Linked DNA regions of Homo sapiens: all the other regions are linked to region 2. The links come from fine-mapping of genetic effects on gene expression. A gene starts in region 2. Each other region holds a variant in brackets. All regions are shown on one strand. Distances are between the middles of the regions. Region 1 overlaps TMEM266 (transmembrane protein 266). Region 2 holds the start of COMMD4 (COMM domain containing 4). Region 3 overlaps PTPN9 (protein tyrosine phosphatase non-receptor type 9). Region 4 has its middle 15 kb from the start of GOLGA6C.

Region 1 (8,106 bases), 760 kb after region 2:
CACCCTCAGCATGGCTCTTCTTCCTGCCTCCTGAACATAATCTTTCCCCAAAGTCCTGTCCTCTTTTCTTCCTCAACATCCACTGAAGTGTCTTCTAGTGGTTAGACCTATGCTAGGTGCTGATGATACCAATATGTAAAACATAAGCCTGGCTTTTAAGAGGTTGATGGCATAGCCATAGAGGAAGATGAAAATAGATGGCAATAAGACAGTGTGATGAAAAGTTATTAGCAGGGTACTCTGGGAGTGTACAGGGAGCAACTGGGCCTGAAGAAGTTAGGAAAGAAACAGTAAATAGAAAAGCATCAGCCAGGCATAGTGGCTCACACCTACAATCCTAGCACTTTAGAGGCCAAGGCAGGAGGATCCCTTGAGCCCAGGAGTTCGAGACCAACCTGGGCAACAGAGGGAGACCTTGTCTCTATTGAAAAGAAAAAAAGAAAATAAAGTGGTTGGGCCCAGTGGCTCACACCTGTAATCCCAGCACTTTGGGAGGCCAGGGTGGGTGGATCATGAGGTTAGGAGATCGAGACCATCCTGGCTAACACAGTGAAACCCCATCTCTACTAAAAAATACAAAAAATTAGCCAGGCGTGGTGGCAGGCGCCTGTAGTCCCAGCTACTCGGGAGGCTGAGGCAGGAGAATGGCATGAACCCGGGAGGCGGAGCTTGCAGTGAGCTGAGATCACGCCACTGCACTCCAGCCTGGGCTACAGAGTGAGACTCCATCTCAAAAAAGGGAAAAAAGGCGGGGCATGGTGGTTCACGCCTGTAATCCCAGCACTTTGGGAGGCCAAGGTGGGTGAATCACTTGCAGTCAGGAGTTCAAGAGCAGCCTGGCCAACATGGTGAAACCCCGTCTCTACTAAAAATACAAAAAGTAGCCAGGCATGGTGGCACATGCCTGTTACTCCAGCTATTCAGGTAGCTGAGGCATGAGAATCGCTTGAACCTAGGAGACAGAGGTTGCAGTGAGCCGAAATCGTGCCACTGCACTCCAGCCTGGGCAACAGAGCAAGACTCTGTCTCAAAAAAAAAAAAAAAAAAAAAGAGGAAAAAGAAAAGCATAGAGTCTTCAAGAGGAAGTATTACAGGTGTGAGCAGGGGCCGTGATCTTCAGAAGTTTCATTTATTTATTTATTTATTTAGAGATGGAGTCTCGCTCTGTTGCCCAGGCTGGAGTGCAGTGGCGTAATCTCGGCTCACTGCAACTGCCGCTCCGGGTTCATGCCATTCTCCTGCCTCAGCCTTTCAAGTAGCTGGATCTACAGGCGCCCGCCACCACGCCCGGCTAATTTTTTTGTATTTTTAGTAGAGACGGGGTTTCACCGTGTTAGCCAGGATGGTCTCGATCTCCTGACCTTGTGATCTGCCCGCCTCAGCCTCCCAAAGTGCTGGGATTACAGGCTTGAGCCACCGCGCCCAGCCCAGAAGTTTCTTATAGCTGAATTGTAGAATTCGTGGGGTTGAAGGGTGAGAGGGAAGGCTGGAAATGGAAATGGGGAGAGATAAATTGCAAAAGGTTGTGTATGATACTAATAAGTTTAAACATTCTGTGAGCAGGAGGGAGCTAGCTAGGGTCTTAAATAGGGCAAAGATATGGTCGTGCGTTTTTTGTTTTGGGATGATCACTAATTGAATGAAGGATGTACCGACAGGAGAGGCAAGGGCACAGGCGAGGGCAGAGGGGCAAGTTGGGAGTTGTTTCAGTAATCCAAGTGAGAAATAATGAGGATCTGAATTAGGGTAGCAGTGAGACTAGAGAAGATGATGAAACTCCAGAGACATTTCTGAGAGATTTGAGAGGATTTGGCAACTGGTTGGGGGCTGTGAAAGAGGGAAAGATTAAGGATGACTCCCATGGCTCTTAACTGGGAAGATTTGGGTGGATGGTAACTTCACAAGACAAAATAAAAACCACGAACATGGAAACAGCCTTTGGATGGAGGTAAGATAATCAGTTAAGATTTGGATAGACTAATTTTGAAATTCGTGTGTGACATTTAGTGCTTTATGTCATCAGATAGTTGGTGGCTGAAATCATAGTGCTAGATGAGCTATTTCAGAAAGCCCATTTATGAGAAAGACCGTCAGTGGGTAGAGATGGGACATCAGAGAATATCAGTATTGAAAGATTGGGAAGAGAGCCGGGCATGATGGCTCACTCCTATAGTCCCAGCACTTTGGGAGGCTGAGGTGGGTGGATTGCTTGAGGCCAGGAGTTCAAGACCAGCCTGGCCAACATGACGAAACCTTGGCTCTACTAAAAATACAAAAATTAGCCAGGCATGGTGGTGCACACCTGCAATCCCAGCTGCTCAAGAGGCTGAGGCAGGAGGATCACTTGAACTTGGGAGGTGGAGGTTGCCGTGAGCCAAGATCACACCACTGCACTCCAGGCTGGGTGACAGAGAAAGACTCTGTCTCAAAAAAAAAAAAAAAAAAAGAGAAAAAGAAAAAAGTTGGGAAAAGAATGCAGAACCTCAAAGGAAACAAAAAGAGAGGAAAAGGGCAAAGGATGCACAGTGTCCCAAGAACCAAGGGAACTGAGAGTTTTAAGAATCAGAGGGTTATCAACAGTGTCAAATTCTACAATAAATGGGTAGGGTTAAAAGTGTCCACGGGATTTGGGAGCTAAAACAATCTGAGCTCATAGAAGTAGAGAGATTAGAATTGTGACTATTAGAAGCTGGGAAGGGTGAGGAAGAGGGTAGGACAGGGAGAGGTTGTCTAACAGATACAAAATTACAGCTAGATGGATGGAATAAGTTATAGTATTCTATAGTACTGGGGGGTAAATATGGTTAACAGTAATCTATTGTATATTTTCCAAAAGCTATAAGACAGTATTTTAATATTCACAACACAAAGAAATGATATATGTTTAGGTGATGGATATGCTAATTACCCTGGTTTAATCATCACACATTGTATACATGTATCAAAATATCACTGTGTATCCTATACATATGTACAATTACATGTCAACTAAAAATAAAAGGGAAAAAAGTGTCCACTGGGTTTGGTAATTAGGAGATCCTGGCTAACATATCAAGATCATTTTTATTGGAGTGTAGTGAAAGCCATAGTGTTGAAGTGAGAGGAAAAAAATGGAGAAGGCATGATGCAGACCAAATTGCTTTCAGACATGTAGAGACTCAGAAGATTTTTCTATATAATTTTACTGAAAAAAATTACTTGAGGGTGTACTCCAGCAAAGATAAAAGGAACTCAACAAAGAGGAAGACATGGGACCTCAGAAAAAAAATGGAGCCAGGCCAGGATGACAGTTATGCAGCAGACCCACAGAGTAATGTGTCTTAAATTGACAGTTTAAGGGCCGGGAGTGGTGGCCCATGCTTGTAATCCCAGCACTTTGGGAGGCTGAGGTGGGAGGATATCTGGAGCCCAGGAGTTCGAGGCTGCAGTGAGACATAATTGCACCACTGCTCTCCAGCCTGGATGACAGAGTGAAACCCCATCTCAAACAAAACAAAACAAAAATTATCAATTAACAGAAAATTTGGGGATCTTGATGATCTTTCATAAAATGGAGAAAACATTTATTTCTGCTTCCTGTTTCTACTTTCTATAAGAAGTAGGCAATGAGAAACCTCAGAAGGATAAAGAAAAACCTATGGAGGCTGGGCGCAGTGGCTCACACCTGTAATCCCAGCACTTTGGGAAACTGAGGCGGGAGGATCACTTGAGCCCAGGAGTTCAAGACCAGCCTGGGCAACATAGTGAAACCCTATTTTGAAACAAAAAATACAAAAATTATCCTGGTGTGGTGGCACATCCCTATGATCCCAACTACCATGGTGGCTGAGGCAGGAGGATAGCTTGAACCCAGGAGGTCAAGACTGCAGTGAGCACTGATTATGCCACTGCACTACAGCCTGGCAACAGAGCAAGACCCTGTCTCAAAAG[A/AAAAAG]AAAAGAAAAGAAAAGAAAAGAAAAACCTATGGCAAAAGTCATGGATCAAATATGAAGCAGGCTAAAATATAGTATCATGTTGAGCGATATGATAGAGTATAAGAAAAAAAGAAATCTGTATACTTGAACTTTCTCTATCCAGCAACATGGATATAATGAAATAGTACTATATCCCTTTCTGTCCTGATTTAACCACACTACCTGATTCTGCAGTGAATATACTGTAATTATAGTATAAATGCTGCTTATTGGTCTTCATGTTTTAGATTCAGTTTAAGAGCAATTTCCCAAAGCATGCTAAACTTTGTATAGTTTCAGAACAGAACACAAATTATTTAAAGCTCAACATGTAACAAAATATTGGTACAGCTAATCAAAGTTGGCATGTTGAGAAGGATATTAATAATCCAATAGCTGGGCGTGGTGGCTCATGCCTGTAATCACAGCACTTTGGGAGGCCGAGGCGGGCGGATCAGCTGAGGTCAGGAGTTTGAGACCAGCCTGGCCAACATGGCGAAACCCCGTATCTACTAAAAATACAAAAATTAGCCGGGCTTGGTGGTAGGTGCCTGTAATCCCAGCTACTCTGGAGGCTGAGGCAGGAGAATTGCTTGAACCCGGGAAGCGGAAATTACAGTGAGCTGAGACTGTGCCACTGCACTTCAGCCTGGGCAACAGAGCAAGACTCCATCTCTAAATAAATAAATAAATAATATAGCTAATAGTCACTGAATCTATACTATGTTCTAGTCAGTATTCTAAGCCTTTTATGGGTTATTGAATTCATGACAATGCTATGAGTTAGGTGCTTTTTTTTTTTTTTTTTTTTTGAGACTGAGTCTCGCTCTATCACCCAGGCTGGAGTGCAGTGGCACACTCTCGACTCACTGCAACCTCTGCCTCCCAGGTTCAAGTGATTCTCCTGCCTCAGTCTCCTGAGTAGCTGGGATTACAGGCGTGCACCACCACACCCAACTAATTTTTGTATTTTTAGTAGAGACGGGGTTTCACCATATTGGTCAGGCTGGTCTCGAACTCCTGACCTCGTGATCCACCCGCCTCGGCCTCCTAAAGTGCTGGGATTACAGGCGTAAACCACCGTGCCCAGCCAGGTGCTATTTTTATTTATTTATTTATTTATTCTTTTTTTTATTATTATACTTTAAGTTCTGGGATACATGTGCAGAATGTGCAGTTTTAATTACATAGGTATACACGTGCCATGTTAATTTGCTGCACCCATCAACCTGTCACCTACATTAAGTATTTCTCCTAATGTTATCCCTCCCTCTAGCCCCCCACCCCCCAACAGGCCCTGGTGTGTGATGTTCCCCTCCCTATGTCCATGTGTTCTCATTGTTCAACTCCCACTTATGAGTGAGAACATGCGGTGTTTGATTTTCTGTTCTTGTGATAGTTTGCTGAGAATGATGGTTTCCAGCTTCATCCATGTCCCTGCAAAGGACATGAACTCATTCTTTTTTATGGCTGCATAGTATTCCATGGTGTATATGTTATTGATGGACATTTGGGTTGGTTCCAAGTCTTTGCTATTGTGAATAGTGCTGCAATAAACATACGTGTGCATGTGTCTTTATAGTAGCATGATTTATAATCCTTTGGGTATATACCCAGTAATGGGATTGCTGGGTCAAATGGTATTTCTAGTTCTAGATCCTTGAGGAATCACCACACTGTCTTCCACAATGGTTGAACTAATTTACACTCCCACCAACAGTGTAAAAAGCATTCCTGTTTCTCCACATCCTCTCCAGCATCTGTTGTTTCCTGGCTTTTTAATGATCGCCATTTTAACTGGTGGGAGATGGTATCTTATTGTGGTTTTGATTTGCATTTCTCTGATGACCAGTGATGATGAGCATTTTTTCATATGTGTGTTGGCTGCATAAATGTCTTCTTTTGAAAAGGGTCTGTTCATATCCTTTGCCCACTTTTTGATGGGGTTGCTTGTTTTTTTCTTGTAAATTTGTTTAAGTTCTTTCTGGGTTCTGTATGTTAGCCCTTTGTCAGATGCATAGATTGCAAAAATTTTCTCCCATTCTGTAGGTTGCCTGTTCACTCTGATGATAGTTTCTTTTGCTGTGCAGAAGCTCTTTAGTTTAATTTGATCCCATTTGTCAATTTTGGCTTTTGTTGCCATTGCGTTTGGTGTTTTAGACATGAAGCCTTTGCCATTGCCTATGTCCTAAATGGTATTGCCCAGGTTTTCTTCTAGGATTTTTATAGTCCTAGGTCTTATGTTTAAGTCTTTGATCCATGTTGAGTTGATTTTTCTATAAGGTGTAAGGAAGGGGTCCAGTTTCAGTTTTCTGCAGATGGCTAGCCAGTTTTCCCAACACCATTGATTAAATAGGGAATCTTTTACCCATTGCTTGTTTGTGTCAGCTTTGTCAAAGATCAGATGGTTGTAGATGTGTGGTGTTACTTCTGAGGTTGCTGTTCTGTCACATTGGTCTATGTATCTGTTTTGGTGCCAGTACCATGCCGTTTTTGTTACTGTAGCCTTGTAGTATAGTTTGAAGTCAGGTGGCATGATGCCTCCAGCTTTGTTCTTCTTGCCCAGGATTGTCCTGGCTATGCAGGCTCTTTTTTGGTTCCATATGATTTTTAATGTAGTTTTTTCCAGTTCTGTGAGGGAAGTTAGTGATAGCTTGATGGGGATAGCATTGAATCTATAAATTACTTTCAGCAGTATAGCCATTTTTACAATATTAATTCTTCCTATCCATGAGCATGGAATGTTTTTCCATTTGTTTTTGTCCTCTCTTATTTCCTTGAGCAGTGGTTTGTAGTTCTCCTTGAAGAGGTCCTTCACATCCCTTGTAAGTTGTATTCCTAGGTATTTTATTCTCTTTTAGCAATTGTGATTGGGAGTTCACTCATGACTTGGCTGTGTTTGTCTGTTATTGGTGTATAGAAATGCTTGTGATTTTTGCACACTGATTTTGTATCCTGAGACTTTGCTGAAGTTGCTTATCAGCTTAAGGAGTTTTTGGGCCAAGACAACAGGGTTTTCTAACTATACAGTCATGTCATCTGCAAACAGAGACAATTTGACTTCCTCTCTTCCTATTTGAATACCCTTTATTTCTTTCTCTTGCCTGATTGCCCTGACCAGAACTTCCAATACTATGTTGAATAGGAGTGGTGAGAGAGGGCATCCTTGTCTTGTGCCAGTTTTCAAAGGGAATGCTTCCAGTTTTTGCCCATTTGGTATTATATTGGCTGTGGGTTTGTCATAAATAGCTCTTATTATTTTGAGATACATTCCATCAATACCTAGTTTATTCAGAGTTTTTAGCATGAAGGGCTGTTGAATTTTGTCAAAGGCCTTTTCTGCATCTATTGAGATAATCATGTTGTTTTTGTCATTGGCTCCATTTATGTGATGGATTATGTGTATTGATTTGCATATGTTGAACCAGCCTTGCATCCCAGGGATGAAGCCGACTTGATCGTGGTAGATAAGCTTTTTGATGTGCTGCTGGATTCAGTTTGCCAGTATTTTATTGAGGATTTTCGCATCGATTGTCATCAGGGATATTGGCCTGAAATTTTCTTTTTTTATTGTGTCTCTGCCAGGTTTTGGTATCAGGATGATGCTGGCCTCATAAAATGAGTTAGGGAGGATTCCCTCTTTTTCTATTGATCGGAATAGTTTCAGAAGGAATGGTACCAGCTCCTCCTTGTACCTCTGGTAGAATTCGGCTGTGAATCCATCTGGTCCTGGGCTTTTCTTGGTTGGTAGGCTATTAATTACTGCCTCAATTTCAGAACTTGTTATTGGTGTATTCAGGGATTCGACTTCTTCCTGGTTTAGACTTGGGAGGGTGTATGTGTCCAGGAATTTATCCATTTCTTCTAGATTTTCTAGTTTATTTGCGTAGAGGTATTTATAGTATTCTCTGATGGTGGTAGTTTGCATTTCTGTGGGTCAGTGGTGATATCCCCTTCATCATTTTTTATTGCATCTATTTGATTCTTTCTTTTCTTCTTTATTAGTCTGGCTAGCAGACTATCTATTTTGTTGTTCTTTTCAAAACACCAGCTCCTGGATTCATTGATTTTTTGAAGGATTTTTCTTGTCTCTATCTCCTTCAGTTCTGCTCTAATCTTAGTTATTTCTTGTTTTCTGCTAGATTTTGAATTTGCTG
Region 2 (8,087 bases):
GTTTTATTTGTCTAGACCAGGCTTTCTCCACAGCAGCACTGTTGATGTTTAGGGCTGGACAGTTCTCTGTTCTGGAGCTGTTTGCGCCTCGCAGGATGTTTAGCAGCATCCCCAGCCTCCGCCTGCCACATGCCAGCAGCACTCCTCAGTGTGACAGCCAAAGTGATTTCAGATACTGTCAAATATCCCCAGGGCGGCAAAATCACCTCCAGTTGAGAACTGCTGACCTAAAACCCTCTGGAACAATGTTAGATCATGGTAATGATAGCGCATACTGCTCCTGACCTTAATGGGAATACCTCTAGCATCAAAGTATAGTAGTACCTGTATACTACTGTCTGGGCTGTTATTAGTACACTGTATTAGTCCATTCTCACTCCGCTATGAAGAAATACCCAAGACTGAGTAGTTTATAAAGAAAAGATGTTTAAGTTGACTCACAGTTCTGCATGGCTGGGGAGGCCTCAGGAAACTTACAATTATGGCAGAAGATACCTCTTCCCAGGGCAGCAGGAGAGAAGGAGAGCGAATCAAAGGAGAAAGCCTGTTATAAAACCATCAGATCTCGTGATAACTCATTCACCATCACGAGAACAGCATGGGAGAAACCGCCCCCATGATTCAATTATCTCCACCTGGTCCCACCCTTGACACGTGGGGATTATTGCAATTCAAGGTGAGATCTGGATGGGGACACACAGCCAAACCAGATTATATCCTTTATATTAGCATACTGTATCGAAGTATAATTTTCTTTCTTTTTTTTTCTTTGAGATAGAGTCTCGGTCTGGCTCTGGCTGGAGTGCAGTGGCACGACCTCAGCTAACTGCAACCTCCATCTCCTAGGTTCAAGCAATTCTTGTGCCTCAGCTTCCTAAGTAGCTGGAACTACAGGTGTGTGCACCCCCTAGCTAATTTTGATTTTTTTTTTTAGTAGAGACGGAGTTTCACCATGTTGGCCAGGCTGGTGTCAAACTTCTGGCCTCACGTGATCCCGCCACTTTGGCCTTCCGAAGTGCTGAGATTACAGGCATGAGCCACCGCACCCAGCCTGAAGAATAATTTTTACAATGTTAAAAGCATGACTTTCATACAAATAATGAAGGAATATGTATAAGATATTTTCTTTAATTCACAAGGGAGTTAGCAACATGGTGAAGCAAGTTCAAGGAGCTTTTTGAGAGACAGTGTCTGTAATGCTCCAGGAAGGGCATTCTGAAATGTATTCTGAGATAGAGACAAAACTTGTTAATATCCTATAGGGAGGTCAGGCATGGTGGCTCACACCTGTAATCCCAGCACTTTGGGAGGTCAAGGCAGGCGGATGACCTGAGGTCAGGAGTTCAAGACCAGCCTGGCCAACATGTTGAAACCCTGTCTCTACTAAAAATACAAAATTAGCCAGGTGCAGTGGTGGTCACCTGTAGTCCCAGCTACTCAGGAGGCTGAGGCAAGAGAATCGCTTGAACCCTGGAGGCGGAGGTTGTAGTGAGCTGAGATTGTGCCACTGCACTCCAGCCTGGGCGGCAGAATTAAATTCCGTCTCAAAAAAAAAAGGGGGGCCGAGCGCAGTGGCTCACGCCTGTAATCCCAGCACTTTGGGAGGCCGAGGCGGGCGGATCACGAGGTCAGGAGATTGAGACCATCCTGGCCAACACGGTGAAACCCCGTCTCTACTAAAAATATAAAAAAATTAGCCCGGCGTGGTGGCGGGCGCCTGTGGTCCCAGCTGCTCGGGAGGCTAAGGCAGGAGAATGGCGTGAACCCAGGAGGTGGAGGTTGCAGTGAGCCAAGATGGCGCCACTGCACTCCAGCCTGGGTGACAGAGCGAGACTCCATTTCAAAAAAAAAAAAGAAAATCATATTGGGAAATAAAACTGCCATCTTTGGGTGTTATCTTTTCCACTGGACAGAAACCCTAAGTTAACATATATACATATTCTCAAGAATATTCATAACATATTCTGTAGTATATTTCCCTACACTAGTGGTTTTCAAAGCATGGTCTCAAATGTCACCTGGGAATATAGACACGCAATGCTCAGGCCCCACCTCAGTCCTATTGAGTTAGAAACTCTGGTGTGAGGCCCAGCAGCCGGTTTCACAAGCCCTGCAGGTGATGATGATGCACTCTAATGTGTGAGAACCACGGCTCTAAATAGTCAAATCATCTTTTTTTTTTTTTTTTTTTTGAGACGGAGTCTCACACTGTTGCCCAAGCTGACTGAAATGCAGCGGTGCAATCTCGGCTCACTGCAGCCTCCACCTCCCGCGTTCAAGCGATTCTCATGCCTCAGCCTCCTGACTGGCTGGGATTACAGGCACCCACTACCACACCCTGCTAATTTTTTTTGTTTTTTTTCAGTAGAGACAGGTTTTGCCATGTTAGCCAGGCCACCGCTCTCGAACTCCTGACCTCAGGTGATCTGCCTGCCTCGGCCTCCCAAAGTGCTAGGATTACAGGCATGAGCCACCGTGCCCAGCCTTTATTTATTTATTTATTTATTTATTTATTTATTTTTATTTTATTTTATTTTTCTGAGATGGTCTCCTTCTGTTGCTCAGGATGGATGGAGTACAGTGGTGCCATCATGGTTCACTGCAGCCTCCACCTCCCAGGCTCAAGAGATCCTCTGACCTCAGCCTCTTAGGTAGCTGGGACAACACGTGTGCACCAGGACAAGCGGGTAATTTTTTGTAGAGACTGGGGTCTCCCTATGTTGCACAAGCTGGTCTAGAACTCCTGGGCTCAAGCGATCCACCGGCCTTGGCCTACCAAAGTGCTATGATTAAAGGTCTTAACATTCTTAAAAAATTTTTTTGACATGGTTTAGGATAGTCTAGTAACTTAACGTACTGTTGTTTTCAACAGGCTAGTGGTTATGATTTGTAAAAGAACTCTTCAGAAATGAGCTCAATTTTACCATGAATTGGGGACACTTTACATTTCTATTTTATAGTGCAGTTTAATTGTCATGGGCTCTGTCTTTTAAAAACCTGAAAGCCTGCAACAATAAAACCAGCTGCACCTGTTGCATGGGATAGGCATGGAATTGAGGAGAGAGCTCAAACTACAGTCAGCCCTCTGTATCCTGAGGTTCTGGATCCTTGGATTTAACCAACTGTGCATCGAAAATATTTGGAAAAAGTAAAACAATAAAAAAACACAGGTCGGGTGCAGTGGCGGGCGCCTGTAGTCCCAGCTACTCGGGAGGCTGAGGCAGGAGAATGGCGTGAACCCGGGTGGCAGAGCTGGCAGCGAGTGGAGATCGCGCCACTGCACTCCAGCCTGGGCAACAGAGCAAGACTCCGTCTCAAAAAAAAAAATTAAAAAACTTTATAACAGCTATTTACAAAGCATTTACGTTGTATTAGGTATTATAGTAATCTAGAGATGATTTAAAGTATACGGAAGGATGTGCACAGGTTATTTGCAAATACTATGCCATATTATATCAGGGACTTGAGTATCTGTGAATTTTGGTATCTCTGGGGTCCTGGAACCAACATCCTGAGGTTACCAAAGGACGACTGTATTCAATTTTGTCTCTGGTTATTAGTCTATTCTCAAATGTATTTTTCTTGTTGTTTTGTCTTTTTGTTTTTGCCTCTTCAAGTCAATGTCGGAAACTTAGTTGTTCTAGACTACCCATTAGCTCAGAGCTACCAGTAATCAGACTACCACTGCAACCTAAGCAACCGATTTTTCTTCCCCATCAGACTGGCAAAAATTAAGATAAGCATCTATTGATGTTGAAGCTGTAGGGAGTTTTCCTGAGCAAGTAATTATGACAGCCCTTTTTGCTAGGCACCTAGATGATTCATCAAAATGAAATAAAATACCCATGCACTTGAAGAAGTTATCTGGTTTATTTCCTTACCTGGGTGCTGGTTATGTGAGGTGTACAGTTGATGAAAACTTATTAAGCTTTATAATAGGTACAATTTTCTGTATGTGTAGTAGACGTCAATAGTTTTTAAAATGTCTTTTGCCACAGCCCGCAGCTGTGAATAATGCTATTCGCTTAACAGTGGAAAACGTGTCAATGACCTGAAACACCCTGGCTCCCGGGATCCTACCCCCTTAAGTTAAACAAATGAAATAACTTCCACTGTCTTTCCTAATGTCTTAATTCGGTCCTCAGTTAAACTGGCGGTTGGCGCCAGTTTTTTCCAGGGAAGGATTCTGGGAGACGGAGGAGGAGACGCCAGCATTTCGCCCCCTGCACCTCCAGCGGGCTGCGGTCCGCTCCCGGCCTCACTCGAGCAGGCCCCGCCCTCCCAGAGGCAGTTAGTCCAAGTCACGTGATCGTCGACTCAGCTGACCCTGCGGGACCGGAAAAAGAAATTCCCGGGCCCTGGCTTCTTGGCGCGATGGTGAGGCACTAGGGGCGAAGCGAGGCTTGGGCTGCTGGAGCGGGAATGAGGGGGCGCCAAGTGGCTCCGGAAACTGGGGGAGGTTGTACTGGCCTCTCCGCAAACACAGTGTGTGCGGGCGTGAGGGCTGTGAGTCTGGTAGGGAAAAGTCCACCACTCTCCCGCTCCCGAGACGGGGGCGGGGGTACGGGGCGGGTAAGACAGAGCAGGCCGGCCGGCTTAGAGTCCCGGTGCTTCCCTGGCGGAAGGAAGGGCCCCTGCCTCCCGGGGCAGGAACTAGGGCTTGTCTGGAGCTGGGAGTCCTTTCAGGTCTTCCCCATCCCCAAGAGGACCTCCCAAGGATACCCCCTTCCCCAGCCCTGCCGTGGGGCTTGTACAAGAAGGTGCTTAGAATCAGGCTCACTCTTCCACACTGTTAGGAAGCCCCTCCGCTCTTTCCAGAGCCAGAAAGTAGTAGTTTTGGGGTTGAGACTTATCCATCCATCCATCCAATCCATCCATCCGTACGTTCTAAGCGCCTGGTCTATACCATGAAGTGTGCTAGGCACTGGGAGGACTTGAGCTGCCAAGGGAAGGGGAAATCGGAGGCTTGAATTGGAGTCATAGCTAAGGCTCCAGGGGCAGAGACCTAACTGCGCCTTGTGTGTAGTGCTAAGGGGGCTTCCTAAGGATGCCATCAAACTTAAAGGCGGATGGATGGCAGGAGCTGGCTGGCTGAAGTACAGTTTGTGTACCAGGGGTAGGGAGGCAAGGGTGGGAGACGTGTGTCTTCAGACAGGGAACAGCATGTGCAGAGACTTCAGGTTAGAGAGAGTATGGCTCCCCAGGAATGGATGCATTTCCCATAGCTGGGAGAGTATCATCTGCAGGTTAGGGAAAGATGAGGCTGGACAAGTAGAGAACAAATCTTCCTGGCTCTTGGATCACCACAATCAAGATAATGAACGTATCCACTGGCCTCCATAATTTCCTTGTGTGAGGGGCTATTTTAAGAAGTATAATCAAGAAAGGCTGTTCTGGCTGGGTGCGGTGGCTCATGCCTGTAATCCTAGCACTTTGGGAGAGTGAAGAGGGTGGATCACCTGAGGTCAGGAGTTCGAGACCAGCATGGCCATGGCACTCCAGCCTGGGCAACAGAGGGAGACTCTGTCTTATTTTTTTATTTTTTAAAAAAAGAAGGGCTGGTCTGATGTGTCACTTAAAGGATAGCAAGCCACTGGCCAGGCGCCGTGGCTCACGCCTGTAATCCCAGCACTTTGGGAGGCTGAGGGGGACGGATCACTTGAGGTCAGGAGTTCAAGACCAGCCTGGCTAACATAGTGAAACTCTGTCTCTACTAAAAATACAAAATTAGCCGAGTGTGGTGGCACATGCCTGTAATCCCAGCTACTTGGGAGGCTGAGGCAGGAGAATCACTTGAACCTGGGAAGCGGAGGTTGCAGTGAGCCGAGGTCGCGCCATTGCACTCCAGCCTGGGGAACAAGAGTGAAACTGTCTCAAAAAAAAAAAAAAAAGGATAGCAAGCCACACAGAGAGTGCAGCAGGCATGGAGGCGGGAGCAAGGCTGGTGTGCCCCAGCAGCAGCAGGGAAGCTGGAGTGGCTGGAGTTGTGTGGGTATGGGGAAGAGGGGAGAGAGTTCACTCGTCTCTGTGAGGCCCAGGACTTTGTTTTATCCCATGCTGTACCCCCAGCACTTAGAGTGGGAGCTAGCACAGAGAAGGTGCTTAATTGATGTTTGCTGAGCAGATGAATGCCTGGAGTAGACCTCAGAGCAGGGTTTGGTGGCAGGGTGGGTCAGGGAGAGAGTTTACTCAACAGCCTGGTGATAGGGGAGAACAAGAGGCCAGAGGGTATCCATCTATGTCGGGGACCAGGGGTCCCTGGTGGGCAGCAGTGTGGGAGACACACGGATCCTGGCCACACCTCAGGCCTCCCTCCAGCCTGATTACCTGCCTCCCTCCCTTGCAGAGGTTCCGGTTCTGTGGTGATCTGGACTGTCCCGACTGGGTCCTGGCAGAAATCAGCACGCTGGCCAAGATGGTTGAGTGCACAGGGTCTAGTCTGGGTGGAGGAGGGGTGTTGGGGGTGGGGATTGTGGGTGTAGAGGATGGTGAGGTTTCTCTGGGGCTAGGGCCTCAGTGCTCTCAGCCTGTGCTACCATGCTTTGTGACCTTGATCAGTGGCTGGCCTGCTCTGAGCCAGTCCCCAGGAAGGAGGGGTGAGGTTTGCCAGCCTGGCTGATGTAAGGACTTCCCTTCCAGTCCTCTGTGAAGTTGCGGCTGCTCTGCAGCCAGGTACTAAAGGAGCTGCTGGGACAGGGGATTGATGTGAGTACAAGATCCAGCACCCCATTGTCCCATGACCTTATGACCACCACTGCCCTGAAACTCTGCACTAGGCCCAGGGAGACGGGTGAGCCAGCCTCTCAACCTCTCTGGGCACCTCCCTTCCTTCTTTCCAGCCTGTCTGTTCCTTATCGCAGGATCCAGGCTGGGGGTGAGGGGCTGGTGAGCAGGGGCCTGGCACCCCCTGAAGGTCTCCTTTCCCCATAGTATGAGAAGATCCTGAAGCTCACGGCTGACGCCAAGTTTGGTGAGTATCCCGCTGAGTCTATAGGCCCCAGGCAACCCTGGGAACTTGGCCTGGTGCCTGGTACAGAGGGGCCCCCCACCCCTCCCAGCAGCATCCTTAACTTACCTTCCCTAGTGGAGGAGCATGAGGGAAAGAAAGACCGACAGTCCCACCTTCCTGTCCTCTGCCAGCTCCTGGTGGAGCAGTAGCAGTGCCTGTGGCTCCAGGAGGCCTGGGGGCTTTGAGCTAAAGTTAATAGGGCAACAGGGAGGTGGCTGGACCCACAGTGACACCCCCTGCCCCACCCACGGGTCCCTCAGAGTCAGGCGATGTGAAGGCCACAGTGGCAGTGCTGAGTTTCATCCTCTCCAGTGCGGCCAAGCACAGTGTCGATGGCGAATCCTTGTCCAGTGAACTGCAGCAGCTGGGGCTGCCCAAAGGTACGGGTTGTGGGTGGGCAGCTGGGCAGCCTGTGGGCCAAGGGCTGCTAGAGAAGGGGACAGGCCCTGTGACCCTGAGGTGTACCTGCCCTGTCTGGGCCAGGAGCCCAAGCCAGGCCCCGACATGCTACCTCCAGAGCTACTCCATTCTACCCCCAGAGCACGCGGCCAGCCTGTGCCGCTGTTATGAGGAGAAGCAAAGCCCCTTGCAGAAGCACTTGCGGGTCTGCAGCCTACGCAGTAAGTATGAGGCCAGCCAGGGTCCGGGCTCATTCTAGAAGGTGCACGCAGCACACAAAGTGCATGGAGAGTCCAGGGAGACGACTTAACCACGGTCACATGGTTACTAGCAGCCGTAGAGCTGGGACCTGGCCCTGGGTCTCCTGACTCCCCACAAGGTTTCTTGTCACTGAGGTCTGCTGTGGGTGATCAGAACTGATTATCGGGCACCTGCCCTGTTCTGAGCCTGGGTCAGCAGGATGGGAGCTTCTTAGAGGCCACATAGCCTTGAATGGTTGAGAGCTGAGCCAGGGTGTCGGCTGAGGTCTACTTGGCTTGCCTGCTTTGATCCTGAGAGCCACCCACCCCATCTCACAGTGAATAGGTTGGCAGGTGTGGGCTGGCGGGTGGACTACACCCTGAGCTCCAGCCTGCTGCAATCCGTGGAAGAGCCCATGGTGCACCTGCGGCTGGAGGTG
Region 3 (8,106 bases), 210 kb after region 2:
TTATTATTATTATTATTAATTAATTAATTAATTTTTTGAGACAGAGTCTCGCTCTGTCGCCCAGGCTGGAGTGCAGTGGCATGATCTCGGCTCACTGCAAGCTCCGCCTCCCAGGTTCACACCATTCTCCTGCCTCAGCCTCCCCAGTAGCTGTAACTACAGGTGCGCGCCACCATGCCTGGCTAATTTTTTGTATTTTTAGTAGAGACGGGATTTCACCGTGTTAGCCAGGATGGTCTTGATCTCCTGACCTCCTGATCCGCCTGCCTCAGCCTCTCAAAGTGCTGGGATTACAGGCGTGAGCCACTGCACCTGGCCTTTATTATTTTTTGTTTTTGAGACGGAGTCTTACTCTGTCACCTAGGTTGGAGTGCAGTAGTGCGATCTCAGCTCACTGCAACCTCCACCTCCCAGGTTCAAGCAGTTCTCCTGCCTCAGCCTCCTGAGATTGAGACCATCCTGGAACATGGTGAAACCCCGTCTCTGCTAAAAATACAAAAATTAGCTGGGAGTGGTGGCGTGCACCTGTAGTCCCAGCTACTCAGAGGCTGAGGCAGAAGAATCGCCTGAACCTAGGAGGCAGAGGTTGCAGTGAGCCGAGATGGTGCCACTGCACTCCAGCCTGGTGACAGAGCAAGATGCCATCTCAAAAATAAAATAAAATAAAATAAAATAAAATATAAATCATTAATAGGTCTACTCCCAGCAATCTGGATAAATGTATATTGGGAACTCAGAACCAACTGCTTAAAACTACATGTGGCACAGAATCTTTCACAATGAGTTTACAAACATTTTCTTCCTTTAAAAGATAACCCATATTATCAGGTCTCTTTATTCTGATATCCACATGTTGCAAGATAGAAAGTCTTTCTTGTTCATCCGTTAAGGGACTATGTGCACTTCAAACTCAAAGCCCTACAAATCTCATCAGAAAGGGTAAGGCCAAATAACCATGAAGAAAGGCCTAACACCCATCTGCCTAATGAAACCAAATAGGATGGTTCTGAAACCATGGGACTCTTCCATCTACCACATCAAGCATTATGCAAGAACCCAAGAAGAAAAAAAGCTAACTGCTATTAAAGGATTAATATCCCACTGGGAACGGATCAACAGGAAACCAGGGTTGACCAAGTGAAGTTTCCCATCTGAGTCCAAAGCTTCAGGCAACACTGAGGGGCCAGAGTTAACTGAACTGTTAAACACGAAAAGCTCCTCAGTGTTAATGACTTCCTACCAGCAGAAGTGAAGGGCTAAGGTTTATCAGCACTCCACCAGCCAAGTGTGACAGCCCCAGATCAGGAATAGTTTGTCTCCAATACCTGATGAGCAGAAAATGTTCTATTCCTTTTCAAATGCTATTTCTGTCTCCTTTGGCTCATGGTTCCTTTGTACACATAAGACAGCATTAGTCACATATTAAAGAAGGCAATTCAATCCCTTCATTTTTTTTTTGGCTTTTTTTTTTTAATTATACTTTTAAGTTTTCGGGTACATGTGCACAATGTGCAGGTTTGTTACATATGTATACATGTGCCATGTTGATGTGCTGCACCCATTAACTCGTCATTTAGCATTAGGTATATCTCCTAATGCTATCCCTCCCCCCTCCCCCCACCCCACGACAGTCCCCGGTGTGTAATGTTCCCCTTCCTGTGTCCATGTGTTCTCACTGTTCAATTCCCACCTATGAGTGAGAACATGCAGTGTTTCGTTTTTTGTCCTTGCAATACTTTGCTGAGAATGATGTTTTCCAGTTTCATCCATGTCCCTACAAAGGACATGAACTCATCATTTTTTATGGCTGCCCTTCATTTTTCTAGAGCAAGATTTTGCCCCTCCCAGTTCACACAGACCAAAGAGCAAAGTCCTGCAAGAAATCACAGTAGTAGTAACCATGTGTGAAGCATTTAAGATATACCAGAGAAGGAACCATACTACATCATACTCAACACTGACAAGCTAGGTATTATTAACCGCATAAAGAAATCAAAGGCTCACAGAGCCGAAGCAAACTGTCCAAGGTTACTCAACCAATAAATGGCAGAGCTGAGGTTTTGAGCACTGAATCCAAGTCTTTTCAAATCCTTATAGTCTTTCCACTTCACTAAATGGGCATGAGACATACAAGACACATATCATTCATCTTATTGGGTAATATATATGTCATTTGTTTGTTGATCTATGCACAAAATTACTCTGGAAGAATAAATAAGAAACTGGTAGCATCAGCTGTCTCAGAGGAGAACTAGGTAGCTGGGAGACATGGTGAGAAGATTAATATTTTCCATATTCCTTTCTGTATCTTTTTAAGTTTAAATCGTATGACTATATTATCCACTCAAAAAAATAACAATAAAACATATTAGTTTTATATAGCCTTTAACTAAAATATACATAACAGGAATTTTTGAACATAATATTTTTGAAACTATGCCACCAAACAATAATAAGTTTGTTGGTAATCTTCATTTCAGGGCCAAAAAAATGAGTTAGGGAGCTCTACACAGGGGTAAAGGATGACAGCTGTTTCACGAACTGCTAGCCTTAGATGGGGATGCTTCAACGAGGAGTGTGCCACTCTCACTTTCCTGCTGGAGGCATTTGCCAATAGCATATTTACTAAACACAAGCTGGCATCTCTCCTCTCAGGTTTAAAAAACACTTGCCAGGCCAAAGTTATCAAAGAGGATGAAGAATTCCCAGAGACAACAGAGGAAATAGGTAAACAAGGAAAACAAGGAAGTAAACAATTCTAAATTGTCATAGGAGAAAATTCATGTTAGGAGGTTGAGAGGCAGAATATAACACAGAAGAGAAACGGAAAAAAACGAAACCTGCCGAGTAAACAAGCAGCTCCTGGCCAGGCGTGGGGGCTCACACCCATAATCCCAACACTTTGGAGGCCAAGGCAGGAGGATCGTTTGAGCCCAGGAATTTGAAACCAGCCTGGACAACACAGGGTTATCCAATCTCCACAACATATGAAAATAAATTAGCCGGGTGTGGCAGTGTACTGCTGTGGTCCTAGCAGGAGGCTGAAGGGGGAGGATCACTTGAGCCTGGGAGTCCAAGTCTACAGTGAGCTGTGATGATGCCACTGTGTTCCAGCCTGGGTGACAGAGCAGAACCTGTCTCAAAAAGCAAAACAACAACAAACAAACAAAACACACACACACAAAAACAAGAAGCTCCTCATCCACCAACAAGAGCAACATCATCTAGGTTCCCAGAGGGAGGTAACAGAGGTAGCTGGTCACACTCTCCACAAGAACCTGTAGACAGCTTGCCAACTGCCACTCATGCCGCTAAAGAGTGAGTGAACCACACAACCAGAAGAAACCTGTAAAGTCTTTCTGGGGGAAAAAAAAATTTAAAGAGCTTGGTAAACATAGAGAGTGGGAGGGGCCTTTGGTAACATTTTTTTTTTCTCTTCTTCCAACTGATAGCTTAGACTTTAGGAAAGAAAGGAGGAATGTGAATGGCTGTGAGGAAATTGAAGTTGGCTTTCCAGATCATGCTAAAACATTCTTACCCTTCCTCTACTCCCAAACCTGGCTTATTCCTATTTCTCCTTCAGGTCAGCCTAAATCCTACTTCATCCTATAAATTTCTACTGCTTTCCAGCCAAGCACTGA[C/T]CAAACAGTATTATAAAGCATGTTATTGTCTATCTGCTCCCACTAAACTGTAAGCTTGGGAAGATGCAGGGGCCAAGGGTTCTGTGCCACAACTGCATACTCAACACCAAGCATAGTGACACCATTCTGATAAGTAAATGTGTCAATGGTGATGGGCTCTTGGCCTGCTAAAAGAGTGTGGTTCAGAGAGTAGGAAGAACACATTTGAACACTTGCCAATCTGATTATGGGAACTTAAAATTTAAAATACAGGAGAGGGCCGAGCATGGTGGTTCACACTTGTAATCCCAACACTATGGGAGGCTGAGATGAGTAGAATGCTTGACCCCAGGAGTTCAAGACCAGCCTGGGCAACATAGTGAGACCCCCCCATCTCTAGAAAAGATTTAAAATAAAGTAAAACAAAACAAAACAAAATAAAATAAAGTAAGAGGACAGCAAAAAATTCCTAAATAAAACTGGGAAAGAACATCAGGAAAATAACATGAGAAGAAAAGCAATGAAAGAGGTGACTATTAAATCACAGAAGAAACTATCTGGAAATTAGATATCTTAATTCCCTGCCAATATCTTAACGTCAGACATCTATAATAGGATATACAAAATAAAATAATTTAAAATAAATTTATGGCCAGGCGCGGTGGCTCATGCCTGTAATCCCAGCACTTTGGGAGGCGGAGGCAGGTGGAATCACTTGAGATCAGGAGTTCGACATCATGACAACAGCCTGGCCAACATGGCGAAACCCCGTCTCTACTAAAAATACAAAAATTAGCTGGGTGTGGTGGCGCACGCCTGTAGTCCCAGCTACTTGGGAAGCTGAGGCACGAGAATTGCTTGAGCCAGGGATGGGAGGATGCAGTGAGCCAAGATCACATCACTGCACTCCAGCCTGGGTGACAGAGCAAGATTCTGTCTGAAAAAATAGATTAAAGTAAATTTATGGATTTTGTAAAATAAGTAAGACATGGTCTCTACCCATAAAAATCTGAGTCTGGCAGAACTGTGAACACAATACACCAACTAATGGGCAAATGGAATTCAAATCTTTATTATTTTTACTTATTTATTTTTGTCTTTTACAAACAAAAGTAAGTAATTCAGATCTCAAGAGGGGAAGTGGAATGACAGCACATCCCAAAATGATATTCCCTGGAGAAATCCACAAACCACAGTAGAAAATTTCTGAATGAGGATAAAAGAGAGTAATGGACATGATACAGCTACTGGGAGACCCCTTCAAACTTCTCAATAACAGAAAATATAGATTGTTTTCTTGACTCAGATCCCAAAATTGTCAGGGTGATAATGGTGTATAGAAATAGGGAACTTCAGCCAGGCGCAGTGCCTCACGCCTGTAATCCCAGTACTTTGGGAGGCCGAGGCGGGCAGATCACGAGGTCAGGAGTTCAAGACCAGCCTGGCTAACATGGTGAAACCCCATCTCTACTAAAAGCATAAAAAATAAGCCAGGCATGGTGGCACATGCCTGTACTCCCAGCTACTCAGGAGGCTGAGGCAGGAGAATCGCTTCAACCTGGGAGGCAGAAGTTGCAGTGAGCCGAGATCATGCCACTGCACTCTAGCCTGGGCGACAGAGCAAGACTCTGTCTCAAAAAAAAAAAAGAAATAGAGAACTTCATTAACCTTGACATTTGCTGGATATCACATTTAACTTAAAAAGGGTGGGTGGGCACAGAAAGCCTGATAAATTCTTGTGGACAGTTTCATCCTAAAATGATAAGAGAACGACTACACTGGACATTATCCAGACTAAGGAGAAATACTAGATGAAAAATTGAAAGGGTTTCAAGAAGAAAGTAACCACATAATCCTTAACAGTGTGATAGCCAACAACTAAGTGTTGTCAACAGGAGGCAGTTAAGAATGCAAGTTCTAGACAGAGCACTAGTCACCCTACATTAAAGACCCAGTTCTGCCACAGCAGAACTCTCACTCAGGCAAGTCAAAAACCACCTGTGCCAGGCCAGGCACGGTGGCTCATGCCTGTAATCCCAGCACTTTGGGAGGCCTGGGTGGGTGGATCACCTGAGGTCAGGAGTTTGAAACCAGCTGGCCAAATGGTGAAACTTTGTCTCTACTAAAAATACAAAAACATTACCAGATGTGGTGGTGTGCACCTGTAGTCCTAGCTACTAGGGAGGCTGAGGCAGGAGAATCGCTTGAACACGGGAGGCAGAGGTTGCAGTGAGCTGAGATAGCACCACTGCACTTCAGCTTGGCCGACAGAGCAAGACTCTGTCTCAAAAAAAAAAAAAAAAAAAAAAGGCCAGGCACAGTGGCTCACACCGGTAATCCCAGCACTTTGGGAGGCCAAGGCAGGTGGATCATGAGGTCAAGAGTTCAAGACCACCCTGGCCAACATGGTGAAACCCCGTCTCTACTAAAAATACATAAATTAGCCAGGCGTGGTGGCAGACAAAACAAAACAAAAAACAAAACAAGACAAAAAAAACCTCTGTGCCATACATTTTCTCATCCAAAAAAGGAAACCTGCCTATGCTGTCTCGCATGATCAAATAACTGGCTATCCTTGAAGGCATTGTGTAAAACTTAACTACACTGCATTAAGTAACACCAGACCTTAACAATAGCTAATATTTACTGGATATAGGGTTCTTTTTTTTTTTTTTTGAGACGAAGCCTCGCTCTGTCACCCAGGCTGGAGTGCAGTGACTCAATCTTGGCTCACTGCAACCTCGGCCTCCTGGGTTCAAGCAATTCTCCTGCCTCAGCCTCCTGAGTAGCTGGGATTACAGGCATGCGCCACCACACCCGGCTAATTTTTGTATTTTTAGCAGAGATGGGGTTTCACCATATTAGCCAGGCTATTGTCGAACTCCTGATCTCAAGTGATCCACTTGCCTCAGCCTCCCAAAGTGCTGGGATTACAGGTGTAAGCCACCATGCCTGGCCCCTACTGGGTACAGAGTTCTAATCACAAGTCAGAGACTAAGATTTAGATAGATTATCAAATTCTCTCAATAGCCCTTAAAGATTGATACTATTATTATCCCTATATTACAGTTGAGAAAACAGATTTCGAACTGTTAGGTAACTTGTCCAAAGTCCCAGAACAAGAAAAGTGGTAGAGCCTGAATCAGAACACAGGTTTTCTGACTCTAGAGAATCCACATTATAACCACTGTATTACAGTGCTTTCAAAATGCAGATTTAACTAAATTAAAATATCATAATATAAACTTCTTCTTTTTTTTTTTTTGAGATGGAATCTCACTCTTGTCACCCAGGCTAGAGTGCAATGGGACGATCTCGGCTCACTGCAACCTCCACCTCCCAGGTTCAAGCTATTCTCCTGCCTCAGCCTCCCAAGTAGCTGGGATTACAGGCGCCCACCACCATGCCCAGCTAATTTTTGCACTTTTAATAGAGATAGGGTTTTGCCATGTTGGCCAGGTTGGTCTTGAACTCCTGATTTCGTGATCTGCTCACCTCAGCCTCCCAAAGTGCTGGGATTACAGGCATGAACCACCACGCCCAGACTAATATCATAATATGAACTTCTAAAGAGAAGACAGATGGTGGTATTGCTTTTTTGTTTTAATTTTTGTTTTTGTTTTTTCCTTTAGAGACAAGGGGAAATTTTTTTTTTTTTTTTTTTGAGACAGAGTCTTGCTCTGTCACCCAGGCTGGAGTGCAGGGGCGCGATCTTGGCTCACTGCAAGCTCTGCCACCAGGGTTCACGCCATTCTCCTGCCTCAGCCTCCCGAGTAGCTGGGACTACAGGCGCCCGCCACCACGCCCGGCTAATTTTTTGTATTTTTAATAGAGACGGGGTTTCACCGTGTTAGCCAGAATGGTCTCGATCTCCTGACCTTGTGATCCGCCCGCCTCAGCCTCCCAAAGTACTGGGATTATAGGCATGAGCCACCACACCCAGCCAAAAATTTCAAAAAAAGAAAAATAGAAACAGGGTCTCCCTCTGTAACCAAGGCTGGAGTGCAGTGGGGCAATCATAGTCCACTGTAATTTCAAACTCCTGGGCTCAAGCAATCCTCCCATCTCAGCCTCCCAAAGTGCTGGGATTAACAGGTGTGAGCCACCACACCCAGCCAGATGCTGGTGTTTTTTAAAGAAATCCTTAAAAGTGAGATAATATGAATTATGCAATTAATTATAAATTATTCCAATTTCATTTTTTTTTCTTTGAGACAAGGTCTCACTCTGTAACTCAGGCTGGATTACAGTGGTGAGGACATGGCTCACTGCAGTCTTGACCTCCCAGGTGCAAGTGATCCTCCTGCCTCAGCCTCCTGAGTAGTTGGGACTACAGGGGTGGACCACCACACTTGGCTAATTTCTGTATTTTTTGTAGAGACGAGGTTTCACCATGTTGCCCAAGCTGGTCTCTTAACTCCTCAGTTCAAGCGATCTGCCTACCTCAGCCTCCCAAAATGCTGGGATTACAGGTGTAAGCCACCAC
Region 4 (8,106 bases), 93 kb before region 2:
AAGGGAGGAGAGGAGAGGGACTAGCAGAGATCACTAGTTGTCCCCAAGTAATCCTCTTATTAAAATAATTAATTGGGAGCATGACTGAGGTGGCTATAGTACTCTGAGTTCTTTTTTTTATTATTAAAAAAAATTGAAACAGGGTCTCGCTCTGTTGCCCAGGCTGGTCTTGAACTCCTGGCCTCAAGTGATCCTCCTGCCTCAGCTTTCCAAAATGCTAGGATTACAGGTATGAGCCACCATGCCTGGCCATACCCTAGGTTCTTTTGTAAGCAAACTGAAACCCCACTCATCATGAACAGCCATATCCTAGAAAACAAAATTTTACAAAATCAGAAACTGCCAACTAACCTCTATCTAGGGACTTCACCAATCAGAAACCACCAACTAACCTCTAACTAGGGACTTCACCAATCAGAAACTACCAACTAACCTCTCACTAGGGACTTCACCAATCAGAAAACACCAACTGTCCTATAGGGATTTTACCAATCAGAAACCACCAACTAACCTCTAACTAGGGACTTCACCAATCAGAAATCACCCACTAATCACTAACTAGGGACTTCACCAATCAGAAACCACCAACTGACTTCTAAGGACATTAAGGCCACTGCTCCACTTTAACCAATCAAATGTTTTCTTTGCCTTGCTTTTGTGTGCACCTTATACAAGCTTTCCCCTCGAGCTCCAAACCACTCGCTGTCTGGCACTGCCTGATTCTTGAATCACTGTCTGCTCCAACTCCTAAAATTCTAAGTGCTTAGGTCTCTCTCTCTCCCTCTCTCTCTCTCTCTCTCTCTCTCTCTCTCTCTCTCTCCCCCCCTCCCTCCCTCCCTCCCTCCCTCTCTCTCTCCCTCCCTCCCTCCCTCCCCCCCCCTCCCTCTCTCTCTCTCTCTCTCTCTCTCTCTCTCTCTCTCTCTCTTTCTTTCTTTCTTTTGAGACGGAATTTCGCTCTTGTCCCCCAGGCTGGAACGCAATGGCACGATCTTGGCTCACTGCAACCTCCACCTCCCAGGTTCAAGGGATTCTCCTGTCTCAGCCTCCCAAGTAGCTGAGATTACATGCATGTCCCACCACGCCCAGCTAATTTTTATATTTTCAGTAGAGGCGGGGTTTCGCCATGTTGGCCAGGCTGGTCTCAACTCCTGACCTCAAAGCGATCTGCCTGCCTCAGCCTCCCAAAGTGCTGGGATTATAGGCATGAGCCACTGTGCCTGGCCAGGTTTATCTTTTAACACATCCTTAATTAGTAACAGTGTTCCTGCTTTTTAACTGGGCACATGGTGCTCCAGAATAAAGACTATATTCCCCAGCCTCCCTTGTAGGTCGGTGTGCCTGTGTGACGCAGTTCTAGCCAATAGGATAAAGTGTCATGAGGCTGTAAGTGCACTAGACATCCTTGTTAAGTCACCTTACCAATTGTGAACTGCCACCTTCAGACTTGTGTTGGTGTGAGAGAGAAATAAACTTCTCTCTCATTTGAGCCACTATTATTTGGGGCTTTCTGTTCTTCCCTGTCCTCGCCTGAGTTATACATCCACGCAGGGCAGAAGTCTTGCCTGACACGCACCCCTGCCCCACCTTGGCAGCACTCAACTCAGCCAACGTAAGTAGGACTCACTCAGTGGAGGCGGAGGGCAGTCAGTGGACAGGCATTCCCTTCCAGTCAGCCTACCCTTCCAAGCCTTCTTGGCCTTTCATAATTTTCTTTACCGTTCTGCATGTCTGGAGTGAACACCTTTCACTCTAGATGAGGGTACCCCTCATTCTTCCCAGGCTCATTCCTACCTCCATGCTTTTGCTTCTGACTCAAGGAGCAGGCAGTATGAATAGACTTAACCAAGGAAAAAAATGGGAAAAGCTGTGCAATTTTTACCTTTAATAAAAACTGGCTACAAAAAAAACCCCAAAATCTGTTTGAAGGCATCAAAGAGTTAACACAATAGTGAAGAATTTCTAGACTAAGACACAGGAAGAGACAGCAATCCAGAGAGGTAACTCAGTACTCGGAGCTACTTTTCACATGCGGTTGTTCCCCACCTCTAAAAAGGCAGCTGAGAAGCTGGGCAGTACATGTTGAACAGCGTCTAGGTGCAATGGGGACAAAAGTTTGAGTCCAGGGACTGCCAAAGCCTGGGGCAGGGTATTGTGTGTAGCTCTCATAAACCCACAGACCATAAGGTGGGGACAATGAAAGGCTGTACCTTGAGAGTTAGGGTATTCTGAAAGTAAACTGAACCTCGCAGAGACTGCAGTCCAGCTTTGAGTCGCAATTCCCCCAGTTTTTTATGTTTATTTTATTATTATTATTTTTGAGACAGTCTCACTCTATTGCCCAGGCTGGAGTGTAGTGACACAATCTCAGCTCACTGCAACCTCCACCTCCCAAGTTCAAGTGATTCTCCTGCCTCAGCCTCCCAAGTAGCTGGGATTACAGTCACCTGCCACCATGCCCATCTAATTTTTTTGTATTTTTAGTAGAGATGGGGTTTCACCATATTGGCCAGGCTGGTCTCGAACTCCTGACCTCAGGTGATCCACCCGCCTTGGCCTCCCAAAGTGCTGAGATTACAGGTGTGAGCCACCGCACCCGGCCTCAATCCCCAAAATTGAATTTAAAATTTTTGGATTGCTAGTGTATTCAGGTATGTGGAATGGGAAAACAGAATTGTCTCTGGAGGAAGACAACATTATCGTAAGCCTCAAAGCATTACAAACTGATTTTTAAAAAATGTTTGGCACACAACTAAGGTAGCTAGACTCAGTAGGACACAACACAACATGAACCAAGAACTATCAGAAAGAAGCAACGATAGAAACATGCTCGGAGATTCCAGATATTGGAATCAGACACAGGCTACAAAATAACTATACTTAATATGTTCAAGGAAGTAAAATATAAGATGCAAGAGTTTAGAAAACTACAAAAAAAATAGCACCACAGGTATTTAAAAAGTAAATTCTAAATTGAAAAGTACAATAGCATTAACTTGGGGCTCAGTGGCTCATGCCTATAATCCCAATACTTTGGGAGGCCGAGGCAGGGTTACTGCTTGAGGCCCAGGAATTTGAGACCAGCTGGTGGTCTGTGCCTATAGGTCTGGCTACTCAGGAGGGTGAGGCGGGAGAATCACCTAAGCCCAGAAGTTTGAGGTTACATTGAGCTATGATCGCACCACTACACTCCATCCTGGGTGGTAGAAGAAGGCTCTCTCTTAGAAAAAGAAAGAAAGACAAAATACAATAACTAAAATTAATAATTCCATTCATGGTTTCCAGAGCCAATTAGACACAGTTGAGAGAGAATTAATGAACTGGAAGATATTGAAAGTAATGGCTGGCCAGGCGCGGTGGCTCATGCCTGTAATCCCAGCACTTTGGGAGACAGAGGTGGGCAGATCACCTGAGGTCAGGAGTTCAAGACCAGCCTGGCCAACATGGTGAAACCCCATCTCTACTAAAAATACAAAAATTAGCCAGGAGTGGTGGCACAAGCCTGTAATCACAGCTACTCAGGAAGCTGAGGCAGGAGAATTGCTCGAACCCAGGAGGTGGAGGTTGCAGTGAGCTGAGATTGTGCCACCGCACTCCAGCCTGGGCGACAGAGTGAAACTCCATCTCAA[A/AAAAAT]AAAATAAAATAAAATAAAATAAAATAAAATGGCAAAAACTGCAATTACTTTTTCACCAACCTAGTAATTCAGAAGAAAATATTCAGAATGAAACATGAAGGGACAAAAAAAATAAAACACACAGAAGAGAAAGTAAGTGATACAGAGGATACACTAGGGATCCTCTAGAGATATATTTTCATAATTTAAAAATATTTTGTCATTTAAAAAAAAAAATAGTGCTAAGATAACAGGCGTGAGCCATCACACCTGGCCCAAATATCTTTATTTTGCCTTTTTATCTGACAGATATTTTCGCTAAGAATGGAACTTGAGGCTGGCAGTTATTTTCTTTTGGTACGGTGAAGGTGTCATTCCATGGTCTTCTGGTTCCTGAGGTTTCTGTTGAGAAGTTGACTGTCAGCCTAATTATTGCTCCTTTGAAGGCAACCTGAATTTTTTCTCAGATACTTCTGGGGTTGCGGGGGGACAAAAAAGGGATCATACACTCCCAGAGTGCTGGATTACAGGGTCTCACTTTGTCACCCAGGCTGGAGTGTAGTGGTGCGATCTCAGCTCACTGCAGCCTGGATCTCCTGGGCTCAAGCAATGCTTCCACCTTAGCCCTTCAAGTAGCTGGGACTACAGGTGCACACCACCACATATTTGACTAGGCCAAATATACCTTTAATCAGCATCCCAGAAAAAAAGGAAAGAGGGGCCAGGCGCAGTGGCTCACAGAATCCCAGCACTTTGGGAGGCCAAAGCAGGCAGATCGCCTGAGCCCAGGAGTTCAATACTAGCCTGGGCAACATGGTGTAACCCCGACTCTACAAAAAATACGAAAATTAGCCAGGTGTGGTGGTGCACGCCCGTGGTCCCAGCTACTAGAGAGGCTGATCTGGGAGCATCTCTTGGGCCTGGGAGCTCTAGGCTGCAGTGAGCACTTCAGCCTGGGCAACAGAGCAAGACCCTGTCTCAAAATAAATAAATAAAGGGATAGAAAGAGATAATGAGGCAGAAGCAATATTTTAAAAAAATAATGACAGAGAATACTTTTTAAATTATGAAAAACAATAGTTCACAGATTTAAGAAGCCTCATGAACCCCAAGCAGGACAAATAAAAATAATAGTACACCTAGACACGTTATGGTAAAATTGCAGAAAGCCAAAGGCAAAAACTTTCTTTAATCTTAAAAGTATCCGAGCCAGTCATGTTGGCTCATGCCTGTAATGCCAGCACTTTGAGAGGCTGAGGTGGGTGGTTTGCTTGAGCTCAGGAGTTAAAGGCTGGCCTAGGCAACATGGTGAAACCCTGTCTCTACAAAAAATAGAAAAAATTAGTCAAGTGTGGTGGTGTATGCCTGGAGTCCCAGCTACTTGAAGTGCTGAGGTCGAAGGATTGCTTGAGACCAGGAGGTCTGGGCTGCAGTGAGCTGAGATTGCACCACTGCACTTCAGCCTGGGTGACAAAGTGAGACCCTGTAATCCAGCACTTTGGTAGTGCATGACCCCTTTTTTTGGTCCCCTACCAAAAAAGAGTATCTGAGAAAAAATTCAGATTGCCTTCAAAGGAGCAACAATTAGGCTGTCAGTCAACAGAAACCTCAGGAACCAGAAGACCATGGAATGACACCTTCACTGTACCAAAAGAAAATAACTGCCAGCCTCAAGTTCCATTCTTAGTGAAAATATCTGTCAGATAAGAAGACAAAATAAAGATATTTGGGCTAGGTGTGGTGGCTCATGCCTGTAATCCCAGCACTTTGGGAGGCTGAGGTGGGTGAATCACCTGATGTCAGGAGTTTGAGACCAGCCTGACCAATATGGTGAAACCCTATCTCTACTAAAAATACAAAAATTAGCCAGCCATGGTGGCATGTGGCTGTAGTCCCAGCTACTCGGGAGGCTGAGGCAGGAGAATCACTTGAACCTGGGAGGTGGAGGTTGCAGTGAGCTGAGATCATGCCACTGTACTCCAGCCTGGGTGACAGAGCGAGACTCCATCTCAAAAATAATAATAAAAATAAAATAAAAATTTTTTAAAAATTTTAAAAAGTAGCCCTAGAGAGTAGACTTTTAGGACAGGATCCTGGAACTCACTAATCAGGTGGCAACAGGATCCATTGTTGGTGGTAAGTGGGGTAGTGATGTGCTGGTGGGCTATAGCAATACCATCACTAGGAAACTCACCTACTGTGGATTGGGATATGGTACAGGTGGAAGGGCAGGCATTGCTGATGCAGTAGCGCTAGAACAAAGTTCTCCAAATCTGGTTCCTGGATCATCAGCAGCAGCACGGCTGCATGCTTGAGACCTGGCGCTGGAGACCGGCCTGGGCAACATAGGTAGACCCTGTCCACAAAATATTTAAAATTAGCTAGGTGTGGTGGCACATGCCTGTGGTTCCAGCTACTCAGGAGGCTGAGGTGGGAGGATTGCTTGAGCCCAGGAGGTTGAGGCTGCAGCAAGCCATGATCACACCACTCCACTCCAGCCGGGGTAACAGAGCAAGACCTCATGTCAAAAAAAAAAAAAACAAACAAACAAAAAAAAAAGAAGACAAAGAAAGGGCTGGGCACAGTGGCTCACACTTGTAACCCAACACTTCAGGAGGCCAGGGTGGGTGGACCTCTTGAGTTCAGGAGTTTGAGACCAGACTGGGCAACATGGCAAAACCCCATCTTTACCAAAAATACAAAAAATTAGCCAGGCATGGTGTTGCGCACCTGTGGTCCCAGCTATTCAAGAGGCTGAGGTGGGAAGGATTGCTTGAGCCTGGGAGGTGGAGGTTGCAGTCAGTTGAGAACATGCCACTGCACTCCAGCCTGGGTGACAGAGTGAGATCCCATCTCAAAATAAAGAAAAGAAAAGAAATGAAACAAAACGAAATGAAACAAAATGAAAAGAAAAGGGATCCTGATATCTGATATGGAGAAACTTAAGTGGATACATCTGAGAACTTTGAACCTCCAGTTTCCACTAAATGCTCTGGTCTAAAGGAAGTAGCCCCCTTTCCTTGCTAAGAGAAGGGCAGCTGCCCCTTGCCTGGAGACTAGGCAAAGAGCCTCCAACAAGGCCTTACAGCAGGATGAGGTGTGTCGTCATTGCTGCCCCACATTGACACCAGGCTATGGTCATTTCTCATCATGGCCCAAGGTCACAGGCACAATCTGCTCTGGGAGAATGATTTTTTTTTTTTTTTTTTTGCCAAAAATGCAGGAGCTGCCAAGTGCCTACTGGCAGAATCTAGGAGAGGAGGTGAAGAAGTGGACATAAGGGTGTTGGACCAGGGGGAGACTAAAGGCTGTATACATGAGAATATACTAACCTGGGGGCACTCTCAAGATTTAATGGCTTGGCAAAGACACCTGGGGCTCCAACACAGTGCTGGAGTGGCTCCTTGAAATGTGGACGGAACAGTTGCTGCAGTGAATTAGGAGGAGATTATAGAATTGCATTTGCAAAGCGTCAAAGAAGCCAGAAAGTACAGGGAGGTAGGAATGTTGGAATGGTTCATTATATGCCAGGAGATTCGGAATCCACCACTTGACTATGTGCCCTTGGAGGGCTCACAGGAACTCCCCTCTCTAGGCAAGCAAGGAAGGCACTAGTGAGAAGGGCACCTGAATCTTTGAGGGACTCAGTGGCACTATCCTTGGTAGGCCAGGATCGACAAGAGGAGATGCTGCCATGAGACCAGGCTTCGTGGTGTCAGTGGGAACGGTGGAAGGCGAGAACAGCGGATGCCAGGTGGTGGCCCTTCACCATCATCCACAAGGTGGATGTAATTAACTTAATTGGTAGGAAGGCTAGAGTGACAGCCAGGATGCCTTGACCTCCAGGGAGCTGTTGTGTTAGCTACAAACTGATGGCATTCATGCATACTGCTGCACTCCAGCCTGGGCAACACAGTGAGACGCTGTCTCAAAAACAAAACAAAACAAAAAAAGTGTTGCTATAATGGCACCAATTGTATATGAAGTTCCTGAAATTCTGACCTCCACTAATATTATTGTGTGATTAAAAAAAATTCCATACTTGAAAGCAACACACCAATAGAGGCAAGCAAACCATGTTTTGCACCAAACAACTATCAATGGTGATGGCACGTGGATCTCCCTTTCAGAACCCTGGGCTTCTCAGTACCCTAAAGGCTTTCTGCAGACAAGGTAACTATCAGAATCACATGGAGAAGACCAGAGCCTGGAAGGAAACCTGAGAATTTTTTATTTCAACCTTCTTCATTTTACACAGAGACAAAACTGAAATTCAGAAGAGTTCTGGTTTCTCAAGGCACACCACTAGTCAATAAACACACAGAGCCAGAAGCTAGATCTAGCTCAGTGTTCTTTTAAAGCTTTAAAAATTGCTCTCTGCTAGTAAAGCTTACAACCTGACAATAACATAATATATACACACACAAATACAGTTATTTCCAAAATAGATTTCGGGGTTGGGGGGGCAGACCCTGCATTTTCACAAATTATAATTTAAGA

What was found.
Region 1: its variant is fine-mapped to the expression of COMMD4 in whole blood (INTERVAL, PIP above 0.99).
Region 3: its variant is fine-mapped to the expression of COMMD4 in whole blood (INTERVAL, PIP above 0.99).
Region 4: its variant is fine-mapped to the expression of COMMD4 in whole blood (INTERVAL, PIP above 0.99).

The regions. Positions count from the first base shown.
Region 1 is chr15:76,088,065-76,096,170 of GRCh38, forward strand. All of the region lies in intron 1 of TMEM266 (transmembrane protein 266), which reads left to right. Among named protein-coding and RNA genes, the nearest start is that of TMEM266, 32 kb to the left of the region's middle. The variant A/AAAAAG (reference allele first, on the strand shown) is at 3,931.
Region 2 is chr15:75,331,716-75,339,802 of GRCh38, forward strand. It overlaps COMMD4 (COMM domain containing 4), which reads left to right and starts at 4,348. Exons shown (of 8, transcript NM_017828.5): 1 at 4,348-4,377; 2 at 6,347-6,418; 3 at 6,640-6,705; 4 at 6,931-6,970; 5 at 7,270-7,389; 6 at 7,549-7,629; 7 at 7,987-8,087. The coding sequence starts at 4,375. RefSeq lists enhancers at 4,182-4,231, 4,572-4,741.
Region 3 is chr15:75,541,388-75,549,493 of GRCh38, forward strand. All of the region lies in intron 1 of PTPN9 (protein tyrosine phosphatase non-receptor type 9), which reads right to left. Among named protein-coding and RNA genes, the nearest start is that of PTPN9, 34 kb to the right of the region's middle. The variant C/T (reference allele first, on the strand shown) is at 3,642.
Region 4 is chr15:75,239,204-75,247,309 of GRCh38, forward strand. No RefSeq gene overlaps it. Among named protein-coding and RNA genes, the nearest start is that of GOLGA6C, 15 kb to the right of the region's middle. The variant A/AAAAAT (reference allele first, on the strand shown) is at 3,627.